2 separate regions of the Homo sapiens genome follow, and region 2 is linked to region 1. The links come from fine-mapping of genetic effects on gene expression. A gene starts in region 1. The other region holds a variant in brackets. All regions are shown on one strand. Distances are between the middles of the regions.

Region 1 (11,266 bases):
GCGCCTAGAGACACAGGTGTTCTCCCCGACAAGGGGATGGGAGAAAGGGGACAGCCTGGTGTCCACCTGCCAGGACCTGGCTAAATGACAGTGGTACATCCACAGCGTGAATTGGATACGGCCCCTGTTATGCTTGAGGAGAGTTTTTAATTTGTTTTTTGAGACAAGATCTGACTCCGCAGGATCACAGCTTACTGCAGCCTCAAACTCCTGGGCTCAAGCGATCCTTCTGCCTCAGCCTCTCCAGTAGCTGGGATCACGGGCATGTGCCATCATGCCTGGCTAAATTTTTAAAGTTTTTTTTTTTTTTTTTTTTTTTGTAGAGACAAGATCTCCTTGTGTTGCTCACACTGGTCTCAAACTACTGGCCTCAAACGCTGAGTGCTTCCCAAAGTGCTGGGATTACAGGCGTGAGCTTCTGTGCCTGGCCGTGAAGACCTTTCAGTGATGCATTTCAGTCCATTCCTGCTGCCGTAACAAAACACCTGAGCCGGGGTCATTGACACACAATAGACATTTATTTCTCACGCTTCTGGAGGCTGGAAGTCCAGGGTCTCGGTGCCAGCAGCCTCAGTGGGAGTGGGGGCTGCTCTCTGCCTCCCAGTGGGTGCCTCTTGCTGTGTCCTCTCCCGGCGGAAGGTGAGAGGACAAAGGGGAGGGGGCCTCGATGGCTTCCCAAGCGCTTCAATGGGGACCCTGGTGACTTAATCACCTTCCAAAGGCCCCACGTCTTATAACGATCTTCTTGGGTCTCAGGTTCCAACATATGAAGGCTGGGGACACACAAACTCAAACCACAGCAGTGACACCCGGGAAAACAGTTGTGACACGCTGTGACAAAGGAAAGCCGCAAAGCCACACGCGTGGACCTGATCCAAGTTACGTGATAGCGCAAGGGGGTGCATGGAGGACTGAGTGGGTGGTGATGCTGCCCCAGAGGCTGTCCCTGGGAACTGTGCGTGGGGACTTATTTGGGGAAAGGGTCTTTGTGGATGTAATTAAGGACCTCAACATAAGACCATCCTAGATTAGGGGTGGCCTGCAGCCCCTAGAGCTGACCTGGATGAGCATGGACCCTCCTCTGTGACCCCCAGATTCTGAGCTCTGGTCCCCCGAGCTGTGAGGAAACACATGTTGTTTTAGGCCACCCAGTGCAAGGTCATTGGTACAGCAGCCCCGCGAGACTCCTTCGAGGCCCACAGCTCAGCACAGCCACGTTTACCGAGTGCCCTCCGTATGCCAGCCACGGTTCTAACTGCTCAGCCTCCCGCAACCCTCGGAGGTGGAGATGGGCGGGGAACGCGGAATGCGCCTGGGCCTCACAGCTGGGGAGTGGATCTGGGATGTGTACCCCTGCACTGTGCGGCTTCTCTCCCCCAGAGGGTTTCAGACTTACACCCGGCCATCGCACTCCGCAGACTGGAAACTCGCAACTCAAACCCCTAAAAGCGAAAGCTGGGGTGCATTTTCTGTTTGCCTTGGAGGGACTCCCTAGGATTTACTGGGGACGGCCGATTTGCCCTCCTCATCCTGTTTGGTTTGAGCTGATGTTAAAAGACTCGCCTCCCACCGCAGACCCGGGGGGAGACCTGGGGAGCTGCCCTCGGAAGCTGAGCAGCACAGACTCTCCCAGGCATGTGCACCTGTCTGTACATGTGTGCATGTGTGTGTGTGTGCGTGTGTGTGTTTCCCTGGCACTCACAGCATCACCATCTGCCAGGCTGGGTGGGGCGCAGATGAGGAAGACCAAGGAAGTTCCACACGACCTGCCTCGCCATGATGAGTGAGCGTGAGCTGCCTCCTGTGTGCCCTGCCTGCCCAGAGATCCCGGGGACATCACCTGGCTGACAAAGTCTGCAGCTGCCAGCAGTCGGCCAGGAATGCCGCATGGCCAGGTGTCTCATACTGGCGTGGGTGTCGTGCGGCCTCACGCGGCCCTTGAGCTATTTCCAGGTGTGGGTATCATCTCCCAGCGAGGTGCTCAGCCCTGGGGTGGGACAGACCGTTTCCTTCTGGCTCCCTGCAGAGCTTGTGGGCCCCTCCACCCACCCTGCAGTCCCCAAACTCCAGGGACTTGGAGGTCCCCAAGGAAAGGACATGGCAGTGGGAGATGATGTCATGAGGGGACTTGGGCAATGGGGAGGAACACATGGCCAAGCTGGGAGGAAGAATAAGTTCATTCTCAGAGCAACGAGATTATGTGAACATGGTAAACCCAAGTGTTCTTTTTAAGTGAGATTACTGGGAAACAAAGCTGAAACTGTTCCTTCTGTGTGTGTGTGTGTGTGTGTGTGTGTGTGTGTGTGTGTGTGTGTGTTTGGGTGTCCTTCACTGTCTCCCTCCCCACTCCCGGCCTGCTTCTTCCTTCCCCAGCTTGGAATCCACGGTTGAGGCTGGTCAGGAACCATCAGGACCCAGCATGGGTAATGGCAGCTGCTGGTGCCCTAGCCCCCACTGGGTCCTACAGTAGCTGCTTGTTGGGGAAGGGGCCTGAAAAGGTGGGAGCAGAAGGAAGCCAGGGTCTTGGGGCCGTGGGCTGCCACAGCCACCACAGAAACACTCCAACTTCTCCCAGCCCTAGCAAACCAGTGGAGGTGTGTGCTGGTGCTTTGTTCCTGGGGTGGCTTGGGGCCGCCTGGCTGCCTCTCCCGAGCCTGGCCCTCACCCAGGAGGCCACACCAGCCTCGAGTGCCCACCTCCGTCCAGAGCCCCAGCTCCCCACTCCTGGGGGCTGAGCCAAGAACCCTGTGGCTGTCCCACCGTCGCCTCCCAGAGGCTTGTCCGGCGCAACAGGACAAGGAAGGACTAAGGCTTAGAGTCGGCCCGATCAGGTGACGCCTGAGCTGTCACCGCTGTCACCACTTACACACAGGGTGTGTGGACAAAGTGGTGCGTGCCAGGGAGGGCTAAGTGACCGAGGGCAGGCACGTGGCAGGCTCCTGAAGGTGGAGGTGGCGCTGACAATGGCCACCAGTGAGCAGGGCCCTGTGTGTGCTGGGGCTGACTCCAACCCCTTGGCGCTGCCACGCAGGGGCTTGGGAGGGCCCCTCCCCAGGCACATGGGAGGTGGCCCCTCCCTGACCACGGAGCCATCGTGTCTGCAGAGGCCCACCCTGCGCCCTGTGCTGCTGCCTGGGGCCAGAAGAATAAGTCGATGTGAAATGGCTTTTTCTTTCCTCACCCCCCTTTGGGAGTCAGGCCCGTTAGGAATGGAAGGGGCTGTGCTCCTGGTCCCCTGGGGGAGTGAGCTTCCCGGACTCTTGGGGGGATCTGGTAAGGTGGATGGTGGGAGGCTCGAGGGTGTCCAGAGCCTGATGGGAGGGGGTGGCAGTGGAGGGTCATCCCTCCAGGGTCTCCCTTCTGGATGTGGACACCACATGTCAGGCCTGTCACCTGGCCTTGTCACACTCCATCTCTGGGTCCCCTTCATAGGTTTTCTCGACAGGAGAATCAGGTCCCTGGATAGGAGGAGACGCCCCTCTGTGCAGTGTGGTGGGGATGTACCCCCAATCCAGCCAGGACCCACTGCAGGGGCCCAGCAGGGGCAGGCACGAGTGTGAGAGCAACATGACCCCAGCAGCTCTCGCTGTGTGCCAGGCACATGGACACGCACCACACAAACCCCACCGTGTGCCAGGCACACGGACAAGCACCGCACAAACCCCACTGTGAGCCACTAGGCACATGGACAAGCACTGCACAAACCCCACTGTGTGCCAGGCACATGGACAAGCACCGCAGAAACCCCACGCCTCAGTGACCCTCCACACCTTGCGGGACGGGCAGCCCTCAGGTGACAGAACCGAGGCTCAGAGAGGGAAAGCAACTTGTGCCAGGTCACACAGCCTCATAGCCCAGCTCGGCCTAACAAAGCCAGAGCCCTCGGGGGTGCAGGTTTCCCCACAAGTTCTGATATAATGTTGGGGCTCTCCCGGCCCAGGGACACAAGCTCCCAGCTCTCTGCATCAAGGAAGGAGACCAGGAGAAGCTCCCCCAGCAATGACAGCTACGAGGCTGCAAATCTCTCCCTCCCTCCACCATTTGTGCAATGTCTTTTGTCCCCACTTCTCTTCACCAGCCTCCCACCACTAACCCAGGGGACCCACAAGGGGCTCACAGTGTTGGTGTGGACCCTCTGTGGGCCTCCTGATGGCAGCAGCGCCTGGGGAAAGAGGGCTGAGCTGAGGCCTGGCACAGGCAGGGCCCCCAGCAGCCCCTGCCCTTACAATGGGATGCTGGCTCAGGTGCCCGAAGCCCAAAGGAGGTGGCCCGGAAGGTTGGAGCTTCAATCGAAGGCCTGTTCTCTGCCCGCAGCCAGGCCCAGGGCTGTGGCAAAGGAGGGTGGTGCCCCAGCCAACACCACTGTCCCTGCCGGCCAGCAGCCACGGCCCCGGCTGGAAGGGAGCAAGGCTCTGCCTGGCTTCTGTGGTCTTTGGGGGAGGGCACGTGGGCCCAGCAGGCAGCTTGCGCTGCGCTCAGGGCACAGATGGTTCTCATTCCCGTTGCCTCCCTTACACAGGAAAAACAAACCAGCCCGGGGCCAACAGACCCCTTTTTAACCTCGTGTTTATTTTCCTTCCCATGCTTGAAAACGCTGACTGTCCTGTGGGCGGCAGCTGCTGAGGGTCTTGCCAGGACGGCACTTTCCTGACCTCAGGGCAGCTCTCCCAGGGAGGGGCTGGGGTGCACGGAGGGGCCCCGAAGGAATGCAGCCCATTTCCTGCTCCTGGACTTCTCCGAGTCATACCCGGGGTCGCAGCTGCCTTTCAAGGGCCTGGAGTCTCCTGACACCACCGGAAGGCCCAGGATGCTGTCGGGGGCAGGACAGAACCCGGGGAGGCCGGCTGTGGGCCTCGCTGGCTGCGGAGAACCCCCCAAGCCATCGGGAGCTGAGGGTGGGTGGAGGGGAAGCCACGTCACACCACATAGGCCCACAGGGCTCCAAGAATTCAGAGGAGGAGGAGGAGGCGGTAGGGGCTGGGGTCCCGGGACCCCGGGTGGGCACAGCCTACTGTGCCACCTGCATCCTCCCTAAGCCTGCACAGTGCCCAGGAGGAAGGAAGGGGCAGGCTGCATCCCCATTCCGGGGGAGCTTGGGAGGGGAATGTGGCCACCCAGGGTCTCAGAGGTGGGGGGCTTACCAACCGTCCCACAGGCCAAGCAGAGCCTGTATTTGTCATCGGTGCCCCAGGTTTCTCTAAAGCAGGCAGACAGCATCCCCACGGCCTGCGCCCCATGGCCCAAGGCAGAAGTTTGGAGAAGGGGGCAAAGCCACGTTGGGGCTGCACAGAAGAGGAGGGTAGGACCCCCGAGGCGTAGGGCGCCCACCAAGAAAGGCAAGGAGGCCTCAGCAGCCCCTCCCCACGTGGGTGAGGCTGCGGGGCTCACCAGGCGGCCTGTGGATGAAAGGAGCCCAGAGGCCAGTGTGGCTGCACTGTGACCCAGGGACCCCCGCGGGCCCTCAGAAGTCCCCAGGGGACCAGCAGCAAGGCCAGGCCCAGGCCCTCTCCCCTGCATTCCCTGGGGTGGGGTGGGCTGGGGCCCACACCCCCTCCCCCCTCCCCCCTCCCCGGGGACTGCCCGCCTCACGGCGCCCCTCCCCCCGCGTCCGCCCCGCCCCCCGCAGAGGGAGGCACGCGGCGGTGGCCGCCCGGTCCGCGCCCCCTCCCCGCGCGGGCGGCGGTGACATCACGGCCACGGCGGCGGGAGGGGCGGCGGCGCCCCGCGCACATCACTTCCTCGGCGCCTCCCCGGGGGAGGACGGGCGAACGAGGCGCGGACGGACAGGCGGACAGCAGGGCGGACAGCAGGGAGGACAGCAGGGCGGGCAGGGGGCGGACGGCCACGGCGCGGGGGGCGCTCCCGGCTCCCGCTCCCGCGTCCCCGACCCATGGCGGGCCCGGCCCCGCCCGCGGCCGACGAGCTCCCGGGCCCGGCCGCCAGGCGCCTCTACTCCAGGTAGGACGGGCCGGGGCCGGGGCCGGGGCCGGGGCTGGGACCGGACCGGGCCGGGTCGGGACGCGGGGGAGGCTGCAGTTGGGAACAAAGGCAGCTCTCGCGGGCGCGCAGCGTGGCTGAGGACGCGCCCCTCCCTCCAGGCCGAGCCCAGCCCGGCGTGTGCCCGCGTGGGCGTCCCCTGAAGCCCTCTTTCCCCCAAGCCAAGGGGAAGGGGGTGGGGGGCCGGGGGGCTGGAGGCGGGGTGGGCAGCTTCTCCAGCCTCACTCCCCTGGCACCTGGCAGGGGCACCGTGGGGTGCTTCCCTCCCAAGCCTGGCCCTGCCATGCCCGGGGCACTCAGGGGCATCATGGCCAAAGAGACCTGGCTGCTCTGGATGGGGCTCTGCCCCTCACCAGCCCTCCACGAGCCCAGTGGGATCCAGCTGGGTTGGAAGGGAGCCAGCCAGGTGGGTGTGTACCTGCCTGAAAAGGCATCTACTCTCCGGGCACATTCCTGGGTGATCCCAGTGACTGGGCTCTGTGCCCCACGCCTTTGGGGATGACAGGGTGGCCCTGCCCCAGGTGGCATGCCTGCCTGGTGACTCCCAATGTCCCCCCAGGGGCTGCCCTGGGCCCAGCCGGGCAGGTGCCTGGAGCCCCAAGCAAGGCTGGGTGGTACCAGGCCTCAGGCAGAGCCACACGAGCGTGAGGTCCAGGCAGGGGCTTGCGAATGGGTGGCAGCCGTCAGAGGCAGGCCTGGCTCCCCAGAGCGAGGGACACTATTGTCCTCTGGACATCCCTAAAACCTGGTGACCTCCCTGATAGGGGTCCCAGCAGCTGATCCCGGGGGGCGCCTAGCCTGGCCCCCAAGGATTCTCTGGCCCCAGCCAAGCAGCAAGCCTCTGCCTGGGGCACCCGAAATGAGGTACTGGTGGCGGCACGGCGGACAGAGGCCTTGCTGCCTCCGGTCTGCTCTCTGCTTTGGTCCCAGACACAGCCCCATTGTGCCGTCCTGGATGGAGCGCTGAGCCCCTAGCCTGGCTCCTGGGCCCCACGCAGGGGAGGGGCGTGAGGGTGATTTTGCTGGCAGCTGCTGCCAGGGGCCTGCCCTAAAGGATTTTCAAGGGTTTCCTCCGCTGATCTGATCGGCTGTGCAGGGCCGCATGTGCTCCAGGGCGGCCGTGCTGTGAGGGGGATGGATAGCAGCCCTGGCTGGAGTGAGTTTGAGTGTGAGTGTGTGGAGCTGTGAGAGAGTGTGTGTGTGGAGCTGTGAGAGACGGGTGTCCAAGACCTTAGCCTTGGGTGAGGCCTGCACAGCTGACCATAGAGTTGGGCATTCTCCAGGCTACAGCTAGAAGCCTGGGGTCCCCTGGGGACACGCCAGGCAGGAGCCAGCCCCTGGCAGGGGCAGTGCTCAGGGGGACCACTCAGAGAGACCCCAGACCCAGCCTTGCATCCCCCTAAGCAGGGAGTCCAGTTGAGCTCCAGGGTGGAGTCAGGCCCAGACTTGGGGGAAGCGCGCCAAGCCCTCCAGCAGGGCCTGTGACGAGGTCCCCCCGGGAGTCTGCACCCCACCGTGTAGCCACAGCCCGGTTTGGGCAGGCGGTTCCTGGTCGGAGCTGGCTTCAGAGCATGGATGCCTAGACGTGTTCTGGGCCAGTGGAAGCTGCGGGCCAGACGGGAGGGCCCTTTGCTGTCATGCTGGGGCTGGAGAGCAAGACACGGAAAAGTCTCCTGTCTCCTGAAACCCGAGTGCTGGGGGCGGCCCACCTGCTGGCGTGGGCGGTGGGCATGTGGATGCCCTGGAGGTGGGCGGAATCCGTGTGGGCACTCCTCACGTGGCTGTACTGGGGTCCCTCAATGTGGATGGGGCTCCAGGTTGGCCCAAGGTCTCCTCTGCCCCGTCTACTGCCTTCCCACACTGACATTCCTTCCTGGAGAGAGGAGTTTCAGCTTTTAAAATGGGGAACTGTGCCTGGAAAACACACTGACAGCGAGGCCCATGAATGTGCCCATGAGCCCACTGGGTACCCTGAGGGGCCCTGGGTGCTGGGTCGGTGGGGACGGGCCCCTGGGTTCTGGGTCGGTGGGGACGGGGCCCTGGGTGCTGGGTCGGTGGGGACGGGCCCCTGGGTGCTGGGTCGGTGGGGACGGGGCCCTGGGTGCTGGGTCGGTGGGGACGGGCCCCTGGGTGCTGGGTCGGTGGGGACGGGCCCTTGGGTTCTGGGTCAGTGGGGATGGGCCCTGGGTGCTGGGTCGGTGGGGACAGGGCCCTGGGTGCTACAGTTAATGCTCAGAATTCTGGCCCACTTGCCAGGGGCTCCCTGGCCCAGAGCAGGGCTTTGGGGTGAAGAGGCCTGGCGGGGACAGGCCAGTGGCTGAGAAGGCCCCGGAAAGTGGGGAAACCCTGGGTGGTCGTCTCCTGGCCTCCCACCTGCTTTAAGGCCAGCTGAGTGCTCCCCGGGGCTGGGGCCGGGAAGGGGCAGCAGAGCCACCCACCTTGGGGTGACCCTGTTAGAGATGCCCTCCAAGCAGCAGTCACCAGCTCCCAGACAGGACGTCCTCAGGTGTGGACTGGGCCCCCCGCAACCTCTCTGGCCACATGGCCATGCTACCCCCTACCTTCACTCCATCCTTCCTCCCTCCCCTGTCCCCGTCCTGGGCACCATCCCTGGTGGGTCGCTGGGCAGCGACGGGCCCTAGGAATTCCTGGCAAGCCTGACCCCAGGTGCTTCCTACAGCTGGGTGACCTTCAGTCCCCTCTCCAGTGATTCCAGCTCCCGCTGTGCTCCCAGCCCGGTCCTGCGCCTCACTCTCTCCCCTCCCCTGGCCACTGAAGGGGAGTCGGTGTGGTTTTCCCTGGGGGTGTCTGGCTGGGGGATGGGGCAGATAGAGCCAGCTGTGAGCAGAGTCTCTTCAGCATCTGCTCAGGGGCCAGCATGTAGGTGACGGCCTTGGGGAGGGGCAGGTGCCAATTCTGTTAGCAGGGCTGGGACTGAGGGACACGGCTTTCGGGTGGCCGGAGGTAGTAGGAGTTGCAGTGCTGGCTTGGGAACTGGCCTTGGTGATGGCACCCCAGCCACCACGGAGGGTCTGAGGGTTCAGTCTGTTGACGAGGACTGGGCAAGGGAGAGGCATTCTAGGTCCTGCCCCGCCTTTGGCCAAGCTGTCCTGAAGGTGGACAAATGGTCTGGCCTGAGTAGGACCCCTGAGCCCACAAGGCCTCAAGGTAAGGAGGAGAGAGCCCAGGGCCTGAAGACCCCCACCTGTCCTTGGATTCCTGCCTCTGCTCAGACCCCGTGGCCGTCTCAGGGATAAGACCTGCCCCCCCAGTCCCCCGCCTCTGTCAGGTTCCAGCCTCCTCATGGGCCACAGGTGGCTGGAGAAGCTGGGAGCCCAGCTGAGAAGGACGCCGGGGGCTTGGGAAGTTTGAGGAAAGGAGCCAGGCTAGGGGAACGTGGTCCATGCCTCCCAAGCCCCACGACCTGGGGAGCGGCATCCCCCAGGCCCCACGTGGCCCTGACCCCGTCAGACCTGGGGCCCTGTTCGCACCTTGGCCAGTCAGGTGAGGGAGAGCACAGAGGGCCCGGCAGACGTGGGGCTGGCATGGTGAGGACTCTGAGCCCCCCCCCCCCGCTGCCCCATGCTGGCACCGTGGGCTGGTGCCAGGGAGGCTGGGGAGGGGGCCAGGTGGGGTCGGGTGGAGCAGAGGAGGCACAGGGGCCTGGAGAACCGGTAGGCGGCCAGGGGCCACCACTGCGCAGAATTCCAGCTTTGCCCAGCCCTGGGCCAGGCCTGGGGGAAGAGGTGCTGGGCTGGGGGCACTCACACACTCTGGACGCCATTCCTCTTTCCATTCACAAACGTGCCTGGCGCTCCCGAGTGAGCCCGGTCCTGGGGCAGAGCAGCCCCCGCTGGGAACTGGATAAACGTTTGCAGAGGAGTTGGCGGGTGACTGACGGGAGGGCAATGCCGCTGGTCCCAGTCCCTGGAGGAGCACGTTGGACGGGATTACCCCAGGGCTCCCCGCCCCGCTGCTGACGAGGCTGACCCAGCCTCTGAGCTGTCCTTGATCCCTTGATCCACGTCAGGGATTGGGGAGGCCCCCGAGCACCTGCTGGAGGACTGGCAGTCCCCCGCCGAGCTTTAAACCCACCATCCTGGAGGTCAGAGGGCAGGGAAGCCTAAGGCCAGCCCACCCCCCAGGACCCGTGGCCATGGTGGGGCGAGGGCTGGCTTGGGGGAGGAGGGCCTGGGGCCTGGCGATGCCATCCCCTGCTGGGGAGGGCCCGCCTCTGGCCCTGAGCTTGGCGGAGAAGGCCGTGTGCAAGGTGGTGTATGGCGCCCCCCGCCCCCGCCCGCTGCTGCTGCCCGTGGGCCTGGAGCTGTGGCTCTACGTGCAGAAGATGCGAAACCTGCAGAGGAAGAGGTGCGGCGGGCAGCGAGTGGGGTGGTCACGTGGGTGTGGGTGCCAGGGCGTGGTTGGAGGCTGTCTTGGGATGAGTGGAGGGGACACCCACCTGGTGCAGCTGCAGGTGGCTGGCTGCATTGCCTGGATCCCAGATTGGAGGTGCAGAATGACAGAGGCCCATCCGTGCACCCATCCCCGACTTTTAGGCCCAGGCCCTTCCCAGGCCAGAAGCCTCCTTCGCCTTGAGCCTCGGATGCCACGTCTCCGGCTGGAAGGGAGGCGGGAGGTGGCTCCCATCATCAGATCTGCGGAGCAGCAGCGTCTGGGCTCCACAGACACCCAGGCCTCAGGCCTGAAGCCCCTCTCCTCCGATGTTGCCTGGAAGGAGGGGGCAGTAAACCGAGTGAGACCACTTGAAAAGTGGCTGGGTGGGGCAAGTGGGCCTTAATCAGGAAGCCCCGTGCGTGGCGCTGGCTGCAGGATGGGGCTTGGCTGGTTGTCATGGCGACGGTGGGCTCCTGTGACCCACGTGGCATCCGGATGGCCATTCCCAGAGGGATGGGTGAGGTGGCTGTGAGGTGCCTGGCAGGTAGTGGGTGGGAGGGCCTGGCCCTGAGGTGAGAGGATCACTTGAGCTCAGGAGTTTGAGACCAGCCTGGGCAACATAGTGAGACCCCCATCTCTACCAAAAAAAAAAAAAAAAAAAAAAAGCTGGGCATGATGGTGCAAACCTGAAGTCCCAGATACTTGGGAGGCTGAGGTAGGAGGATGGCTTGATCCTGGGAGATGGAGGCTGTAGTGAGCCGAGATCGCACCACTGCACTCCAGCCTGGGCAACAGAGCAAGACCGTGTCTCTATAAAAATAATAATGGTAACATAAGTTTTAAAAATGAAAAATGAAAGCAACAGAAAGCAAAC
Region 2 (8,360 bases), 21 kb after region 1:
CTCATGACCTCATGTAAACCTCAGGACCTCCTAACACCATCCCATGGGGAGTTAGGGCTTTGATCATGATGCTCCAGCAAAGACTGGAAGTCAGAGAGAAGTGAGCCGCAAGCTTAGACGGAGGAACAGCAGTCTGGGCAGAGATAACAGCCTGTGCAAAGGGCCTGAGGCAGGGGCCAGCCTGGTAGGTGAAGGGACAGGGAGACTGTCTGGAGCTGACGGAGCAAGGCGAGGGCCTTGGCCGAAGAAGGGAGGGCCTCGTGGGCCCTTGTGTGAGACCCCCTCCCCAATGGGGCGGGGCCCTCAGGACCCAGCAGAGAAGGGGCAAGGCCTAGGCCAGCCCTTACCAACCCCATGGTCCTTGCATGGAGAGGGGACTTAGGGGCAAGGCTGGGGCAGCAGGCAGGTGAGGGGCAGGTGATCCGGCTCCAGGGAGGTGAGGAGGGGTGGGACTCTGGATCTGCAGTGAGGCGGGGACAGACTGGATTTCAGACCAGAGGTGGGCGTGAAGGAACCGTGGGCAGCTGAAAATCGGGGTTGCTGAGGTCTGAGCCAAGCCGGCGGGGCGGGTGCTGCCCTGAGGGGTCCGGCAGGCACAGGGGGCACCAAGATGCTCGATGGGCTTGAGTTGGCCATTGCACATAAACGTCTGGAGCTGGGTGAGGACAGAAATGATGATGACAGTGTGACGGTCAGCGTCGGGTGGCCATGGGGCGGTGCTGGGAGAAGTTTCCAAACGTTGCCCTCGCAGGCGGGAGAGACAGGAAGCCAAGCCAGTGGGCCGGGCCTGTCTGGGCAGCTCAGCCAAGGGCGCTGGACTCACACTCAACGCCTCAGCCGACTCTGCAGACAGAGGGTGCATTGAGCCAGGCGCAGCGGGCCTTCCGCCCACCGTCCGTGCCTGGCCATGAGGGCGCCCGCCCTGGGGCCAGACGCAGGCTGTGTCTCAGAAGAGCATTTCAGCCGCTGCTGCAGCCAGGGCCCATCCATGCGGTGTCCTGGTGGAGGGCCAGGCCTGGCAGAAGCAGCTGTGCCGGGCCCAGGACCCGGAGGATGCGGTGGGGAAACCAACTTAGGCCCCCATGGCACTGGGGGCGGCAGAGGGAGAGCCAGGCCCTCAGGCAGTGCACACCGGGAGACGGAGCGGGGCTCTCGCTGGGTGTGGTAAGTGAAGGGCCCGCCCCAGCACAGACGTGCTCCTCTGTCATTTCCATGGTGTGGGGAGCAGGCCCCGAACTGTGTGGGGTCAGCAGCTGTCCTCAGAGCTACCTTGCTCATCTGGGTGGGGGTGGGCAGCTGGTGGCCCTTCAGAGAACAGGCCGTCGACCCCAGCCCCGTTCTGTCCCTTCAAGCTGCACCACCCGAGGCTGGGGCGGCTCCACCTCAGTGCCTGGCCGGATCCTGAATGTGCCGGAGCTAACCCTGATCCCGCTGACCACTGTGGCCACAGGGTGGCGATGGGAGCCCTGCCCCGGGCGTTTGTGTTGGGAGTGGGAGGAGCAGTGGACGGCCCCAGGTCCCAGTGTCCTGCTCAGGCCCCTGATGGGCCCCACGTGTGCCTCTGGCCGCACAGGTTTCCATCCCAGGCCCCTGGAGAGCAGGAGCTTAGGGTGTGTCCTCGGAGCCCAGAGGCCAGGCCAGGGAAGCGCACAGCCCACACTCAGCCAGTTCCCGGTCCCTGCCCAGCTCTCATGAAGCTGTAGGCATTCGCCGTGGGCTGGTCTGGGGCCAGCGGGCTGGAGGCGGAAGACCAGCCTGGGCCCCCAAGTCCTCAGCTCCCTCTGCTCCTGTCCCCTTCCCCCCAGCTGCGTTTAGGAGCTCACCATTTAAACGGGTCACATGGACAGACTCAGGAAGGGGCTGCTAGCAGCCAGGCCGATCCAGGGGCTCCCCTCTGCCCCATAGGTAGCACCTTGCTGTCCACCAGGTGCCTTCTTAGCCGTCTGAAGCCCCCAGTGCATCCTCATCACTGCCATTCACTAGGTGGCAGCAGGACCCCCTTCCCAGTTGGGGGTGGAGGCTTGGACTCCATTTGGTGGCACAATGCTCAGACAGCAGCCCCCCAGCAAGACCCAGGCCTGTTCTCATCCGCAGCATGGGCCTGTAAGGGAGACCCTGAGAGACCCTGACACTCGGGCCCATTTCCTCCCTCCCTCATGGTCGGGGCCAGGCTCATATTTAAATCAGGGCCCTGCTGAGGCTGGGGTCAGGGGGATGTTGGCTGAGTGACAGCTGTGCAGGTGAGGCTGGGAGGGGCTGTGTGTGGGGCCCAGTGCCTGAAATGACCGAGTGACTGCCCGCCTGAGCCGGCTCTCTCCCTCTGTGGATGTTGTGTTCCCCGGCAGGGCCCAGAACCCAGGGCTAACGGTGGGGTCCGGGTGCACCTGAGGCCCCGGCACCCTGCCTGGCCATTCATGCTGCTAACTTTGACGAGTGCCCCAACCCTGGTGGCTGTGCTCCCTGATGCAGTGGGGCCTGGACAGGGTAAGGGGGTGTCTGGGCCTGCCCCCCGACATCTGCCTGATGCAGGCAGCCACCAAGCAGCTTCACTTTAGGAGCTGAGCCTCTCGGGGGGATGAGTGCGGAGGGGAACTGCCCGGCCCGGCCCATCCATGCCGGCGCAGTCTGATGAGGAGGGCGCTGAGCTCCGAGGCGTAGTAATGGGGCCAAGTCTGATGGTCTGGAGGTGCCAGGACTGGATTCTCAGAGTGCCCACTGATGCCAGGGCTGGTTCTGGCCCCGCCCTCGGACTCACACTGGGTGTGCGCAGGGCTCCTGGGCACAGCCCGTGTCCAGTGTGTCCACGGGTGGAGGGACGCTTGGTTCCCAGGAAGACTGGGTAAGGGTGGGCATAGGGGGGTGGGAGCTGTGGGTGAGCAGGGAGGAGGATGAGGGTCCTCCCAGCTGCGAGAGTCTCCCTGGAGATGTGCCAGGCGTAGGGACAGCAGAGACAGGGTCCTCAGTGTCAGCCTCGTTCCGCCGTCGTCCCCTCTGCCTAGAACGTTCTGCTGCCCTTTCCACAGTGGCTGTGCCCCTGTCCGTCCCGCCGCCTCCTCAGGGAAGCGCCCGCAGACCCTGGCTCTCAGCCACAGCATCGGGCCCTTCCCACAGGGCTTCCTGCCTGGTTGAGGACATTCCCCACTTCCCGGATTCCATCCC[AT/A]TTTTTCCGTTCGCCAACTGATTTCTGATCTGCCAGGTCTGTCGTGCCCTGGATACAGGCTCCTGAGAGTGCTCAGGGAGCGGCTGGGCTGAGGTAGGGCCCACTCTCCCAAACTCCCAAATCCTTTCGGGCCCCGCAGGGCTGAGCGACACCCGTCTCTGCCAGGGCTGTGTTGGGACAGGGCTGAGTGACACCCGTCTCTGCCAGGGCCGTGTTGGGACTGAGGCTTGAAGGTGGGCCTGGCTGTGGGGCTTCCCAGGGGCCCGGGACAGGCACTGGTGGCTCCGCTGAGTCTGCAGCTGGCCAGTGTTGGGTCAGGCAGCTGTGCCCCACCACCCCACTGCGGCTAGAGGGGATGGGGGTCCCTTGGGTGGAGACACGGCCAGTAGGGTGAGCCCCGGGCCAGGAGGGATGGACAGGAGCCCGGGGAAGGTCCCACGGCAGAGCTGGTCTGGGGGATTCATCTGAGGCCTTTGCGTCCCCGACCCTGGCCTGGGCTGCCCGCAGTGAGCTGGGAGTGGACCCACAGGCCCGCCCCACCTGCCTCCGGGGCACAGCATGATGCACCCTCAGGAGGGGGGATTGGGTGGCCTCACAGAGGTGACCAGGGGCCACAGGAAGGGTGATCCAGGCAGAGGGAACAGCAGGACTGACGGGGGAGGCCCTGTGTGCGGCAGGGGAGAGGCCTGTCCAGAGCCGGGCCCTTCCAGCACAGGGAGCCAAAGCCAGACCCCACCTGGCCCCAGCCAGGACGCGCTCTGTCTCGACACCTGTCCCCTTTGACTCTGACAGTACAGTCGGGGAGACGCAGAGGACACTCAGACATGGCGCTCGCCTCCACAAGGGGGGCTGGCTGTCAGAAAGCCATGGCCGGGCTGGTCCTTGGCCCCCCAGAGACTCTGGCCTGGCCCACCCAATGCGAGGTGCCAGGGTGGTGCTGGGCTGACCGGGTCCCTCTGTCTTCAGGGGCCAGACCCAAGAGGACGCAGAGGCTGAGCGCGGAGACCTGGGACCTGCTGAGACTCCCCCTGGAGCGGGTGAGCCAGGGACACGGGACCGATGTCAGCACAGCCGCTGCCAGAGCATGGGCAGCGGGGTTAATGAGGCAGAGCCACCGCCACCCACCTCAGCCCCTGTCTGCTGGGAGATAAATGTGCCCTCCTCGGCCTGATGCCCTGCATGGCCCATCTGCCACCTGCTCACCCATGTCCCTCAGCGTCTGGCCAGCTGTGCCCCAGGCGAGGCATGGTCCTCACACATTTCAGGCCCCCATACTCCACCCAGCTGCTATGCCACCACACCCTCGGGAGCCCACAGACAGGGGCACCCACTCCTGCCTGCTCCCTGCCCTCTCGGACTCTGACCCAAAGTGGGCACAGCTGCTGCAGGTGCAGACACTGGCTGGGGTTCAGCAGACCCACACAGACAGATTCGGGGGCTGCCTGGCGTAGGGCCCTGGGCTGGCCCTGTGCCTGTCGGCAGTGGGTGCTGTGTGGCCTGGGCCAGCAGCCTGATCTCTCTGAGCCTCTGGTTCCTCTGGTGTGGCCTGTGTTCAGTTGTGGATGGCCGTCAGGGTTCTGCTGTGGGGACGAGACCCAAGGACGCCCACAGTCACTGTCATTGCTGGTATAAGCCGGCTGACATTTGCGGGGGCCACTGGCCCTCAAACACCCCACCCTGCCTCTCCCGGCCCCAGCCAAGGGCCCACAGCCCCAGTCCTCTCCTCCTCTCTGGGTACTGGGCACCTACGGCGTGCATCCATGAAATGGAGGCGGCCTGGCCTTCCCTTCAGGGTCCTGGGATGGGGACATTGGTTCACAATTGCCCAGGCCACGCACAGCCTTACCCCTCCCCAGGAGCAGAATGGAGACAGCCACCATTCAGGGGACTGGCGGGGGCCCAGCAGGGACTCGCTACCCCTCCCCGTGAGGAGCAGGAAGTACCAGGAAGGCCCGGACGCTGAGAGGAGGCCCCGGGAGGGCAGCCACTCCCCGCTGGACAGCGCCGACGTCCGGGTGCACGTGCCACGCACGGTAGGCGTCTTTGACGGCAGATCCAGGCCGAGAGGGAGGAGAGCTTGGCAACTGCGCCCCAACTCCACTGCCAGCCAACGGGGCCAGGTCAGGCCCGGGCACTCCGGGGAGGCAGGGGTCCCTCCCCGGTGCACCTGGTGCAGTGCTGTCCTGGGACCCCGGTGGGGGCTCTGGGCAGGGCTCAGTGTTTAGCATTGTGGTCGCACCTGGCCTCAGAGGCCCCGGCCACCGAGGAGCCTCCTGGGGACTCTAGGCTGGGCTCTTCTGCATGGAACGCCCCGCCTCTCTTTGGGCCTCAGTTTCCATCTTGTTCACCAGTTGGGGGCTGGCTCTTCCCAGCCTTCAGGTGGCCTCTCTCTCTGACTCCAGCCCCCACCCTCCTTTGTTGGGACCCTCCAGACCCATCCGCTAGTCACAGGAGCGTGTCCCTGAAAGGAACTGGCTGCCTTCACTGTGAGAGCCGGGCTGCACAGATCCCCTGATGGGGTGCCCCTTCCTGAGGTGGCTCTTGGAGGCTCTGGCCAGTGAGGTCAAGCCTGTGTATCCTACCAGGGCCCTGGAGGGGTGGACGAGGCCAACACAGTCCCTGGGGGAATCCTGGGATCTCTGACACCTGGCGGGGGTCCCTGAGCAGAGGGGCCTGAGGGGCACCCAAGGGGTGGGTGGGAAGCCCCTAAGCCACACCCATGGTCAGGCCCTGGTGTGGAAGCACCTGCAGCTCCAGCTGGGCCAAGGTACTGGGGCCTCTCCTTGTGGGTGCAGGGGCCGGGGCAGGACCGATGGTGAGTGGGGTCATGGAGGGGATGCAGCTGGGTGGCCTGTGCATGGCTGCAGAGCCCCTGGTGAGGGGACAGCAAGGGGCTAGGTCCACTCAGGGTTCCTCCTGGTCAGGGGCTGGGAGGCCCCACCCTGCCCTACCCCACCTGGGCTCAAGGTCACGAGTGGAGCAGAGGGTCACAGCCCAGCAAGCAGCAGCAGCGCAGCCTGGGCGCCACCCGGGTCCTCAGGGCTAGCCAGGAGCCCCCCGCGTTGCTGTGGCACACAGAGGTGGCGGGAGGGGTGGGGCAGTTGCAGTGACTGCCAAGTGTATGGGTGGACGGACGGGGGACAGACAGACTGGTGGTCAGACTCGGGGTTGGTGGGGGGACAGGTGACAGGCCGGGCCTGTGCCTGGCAGGTGTCAGCTGTGCCAGGGCCACCCCAGCCACGGGAGAGCTGGTTGGTGTTCAGGGGCACCGATGGGCCGAGTCCGGGTTCGGAGGTCAGCCTGGAGCTCCCCCGAGCAGGACGGCTGGGTCCAAACCACTAGAAATAGTCTGAAATTGTTCTTCCGTGGGCACCAACCTGCAGAGGGGTGTGGGTGCTGGGCTGGGATTCGCAGCCCCCCGAGGCTGCCCAAGCCCATCCTTCCCACCAGCAGGGCACAGCCTACCTTCCCCTCATTCAGCCCCAGCACTGCCCAACCATCTGGGCTAGGTCCATCCGTCCACTGATGGGAGAGGTGTGGAGGGAAGGGCACCCAGGGAGCACCTGGTCAGGCCTTCCCGGGGGTCCCGGTGATCCCCCAGCCTCCCTGGGCCTGGAGGGAGGAGCAGGACTGGGACCCAGACACCTGCCCTGTCCACAGCTGGCCCTGCCCTGTCCACAGCTGGGTCTGCCCTGTCCACAGCTGGCTCTGCCCATCACATCTGGGCCGCCAAGGAAGGAGTGGGAGGCTGGCAGCATGTGTGGGACAGACCAGTCAGCCGGCCTCAGGGGCTGATGGCTTTCTAGAAAGCACAGCCTCTGAGGGCTTCCAGGCTTCACGTCACCCCAACAAACTGCCCTGGGTCTGGGCCAGCAGGGCAAGGGGACACAGTTCCAAGTGTCCAGCTGCCTGGCCCAGCACTCTGGAGGCCTTGGCCAGGGCCCCAGGGAGCCCCCACCTGCTGCGGGCCCTGCTCCCCTGGCCCCTGCAACCACCGCGGGGCAGGACGCCTGGGACAGCCAAGATCCTGGCCCCAGACAAACGGGGTTCCCAGGGTCTGTGAGGACGTGGCAGGGCCTCTTGGCTTTCTGCTGACCTGAACCCCACTGGCCTTACCGAGGTCAGAACCTTGGGTACCTCCGAGTAAGGACCGTCTGCACCCTGGTGGCAGCCTGTATGGGGACTGCAGCGAGGGTGGGTGGGGGATACATCCCTGGGGCGTCAGTGGCCGGGTGGGCCCCCTTCCCCCTCTGCTGGGGTCCTCAGGGAAGGGCTTTCAGCTCTCAGTTGGGGTCCTCATCTGCAAAGTGCAGCTGATACCAATACTGCGCCGTTGCTGTTGGTGACACCAATACTGCGCCGTTGCTGTTGGTGACACCAATGCTGCGCCGTTGCTGTTGGTGACACCAATGCTGCGCCGTTGCTGTTGGTGACACCAATGCTGCGCCGTTGCTGTTGGTGACACCGATGCTGCGCCGTTGCTGTTGGTGACACCGATGCTGCGCCGTTGCTGTTGGTGACACCGATGCTGCGCCGTTGCTGTTGGTGACACCGATGCTGCGCCGTTGCTGTTGGTGACACCGATGCTGCGCCGTTGCTGTTGGTGACCAACCAGCCCCTGCCCCTCCCCACCCTGTGCCCAGACAGTGCAGGGGCCTTGCAGCCAGCACATTCGGGGCTTTGGGATCTGAGGCGGTGTGGCTGGGTGTGGTCTGGGGGTCCAGAGAACTCATTCTGGGGTGGAGGGTAGGGGACAGGGCAGGGTTGGCCTCAGAGGCTGGAGACAGTGTAGGTCCAACCAGGAATGAGACAGAGAGGCAGCAACCAGAGGCTTGAGTTGAGCTGGCCGGGAGGCCCTTGAGCCAGGGCACTGGGGAGCCACCGAGGGCTGTGGGACAGGAAGGGCCGTCCCGGACAGAGGAGTCCAGATGAGGACAGCAACCCGCCCAGGTCCTCTGCGCCTGCCTCCGTAGTCAGGCTGAATAAAGAGGTGGCTTTCCCCACCTGGCCCAGCTCTGGAGGGAGGCCCAGGGGCCCAGGTGTCAGCGGGAAAAGGGCTCTTCGGCAGGCTGTCTGCCCACACAGCCCTCCAGTGTGCCCGCCCACAGGCACGGGGAGGGGGAGGTTCACTGCTGCACTTGCTGGGGGAGTGTTTACGGAGTGCGCCTGTGTGTGAGTGCGAGCCCACGTGCGTGTGTGT

What was found. PIP is the estimated chance that this variant, and not a neighbour inherited with it, causes the effect.
Region 2: its variant is fine-mapped to the expression of GPSM1 in lung (TOPMed, PIP above 0.99).

Annotation. Positions count from the first base shown.
Region 1 is chr9:136,321,806-136,333,071 of GRCh38, forward strand. It overlaps GPSM1 (G protein signaling modulator 1), which reads left to right and starts at 5,734. Exons shown (of 14, transcript NM_001145638.3): 1 at 5,734-5,958. The coding sequence starts at 5,891. DKFZP434A062 (a long non-coding RNA gene) reads right to left here and starts at 5,518. Exons shown (of 1, transcript NR_026964.3): 1 at 497-5,518. RefSeq lists enhancers at 2,111-2,737, 2,738-3,366, 5,896-6,425, 6,426-6,954, 11,012-11,266 and a silencer at 4,568-4,862.
Region 2 is chr9:136,344,571-136,352,930 of GRCh38, forward strand. GPSM1 (G protein signaling modulator 1) reads left to right here. Exons shown (of 14, transcript NM_001145638.3): 10 at 4,127-4,197; 11 at 5,017-5,193. Among named protein-coding and RNA genes, the nearest start is that of DNLZ, 15 kb to the right of the region's middle. RefSeq lists enhancers at 364-1,017, 1,018-1,671, 8,147-8,360. The variant AT/A (reference allele first, on the strand shown) is at 3,160.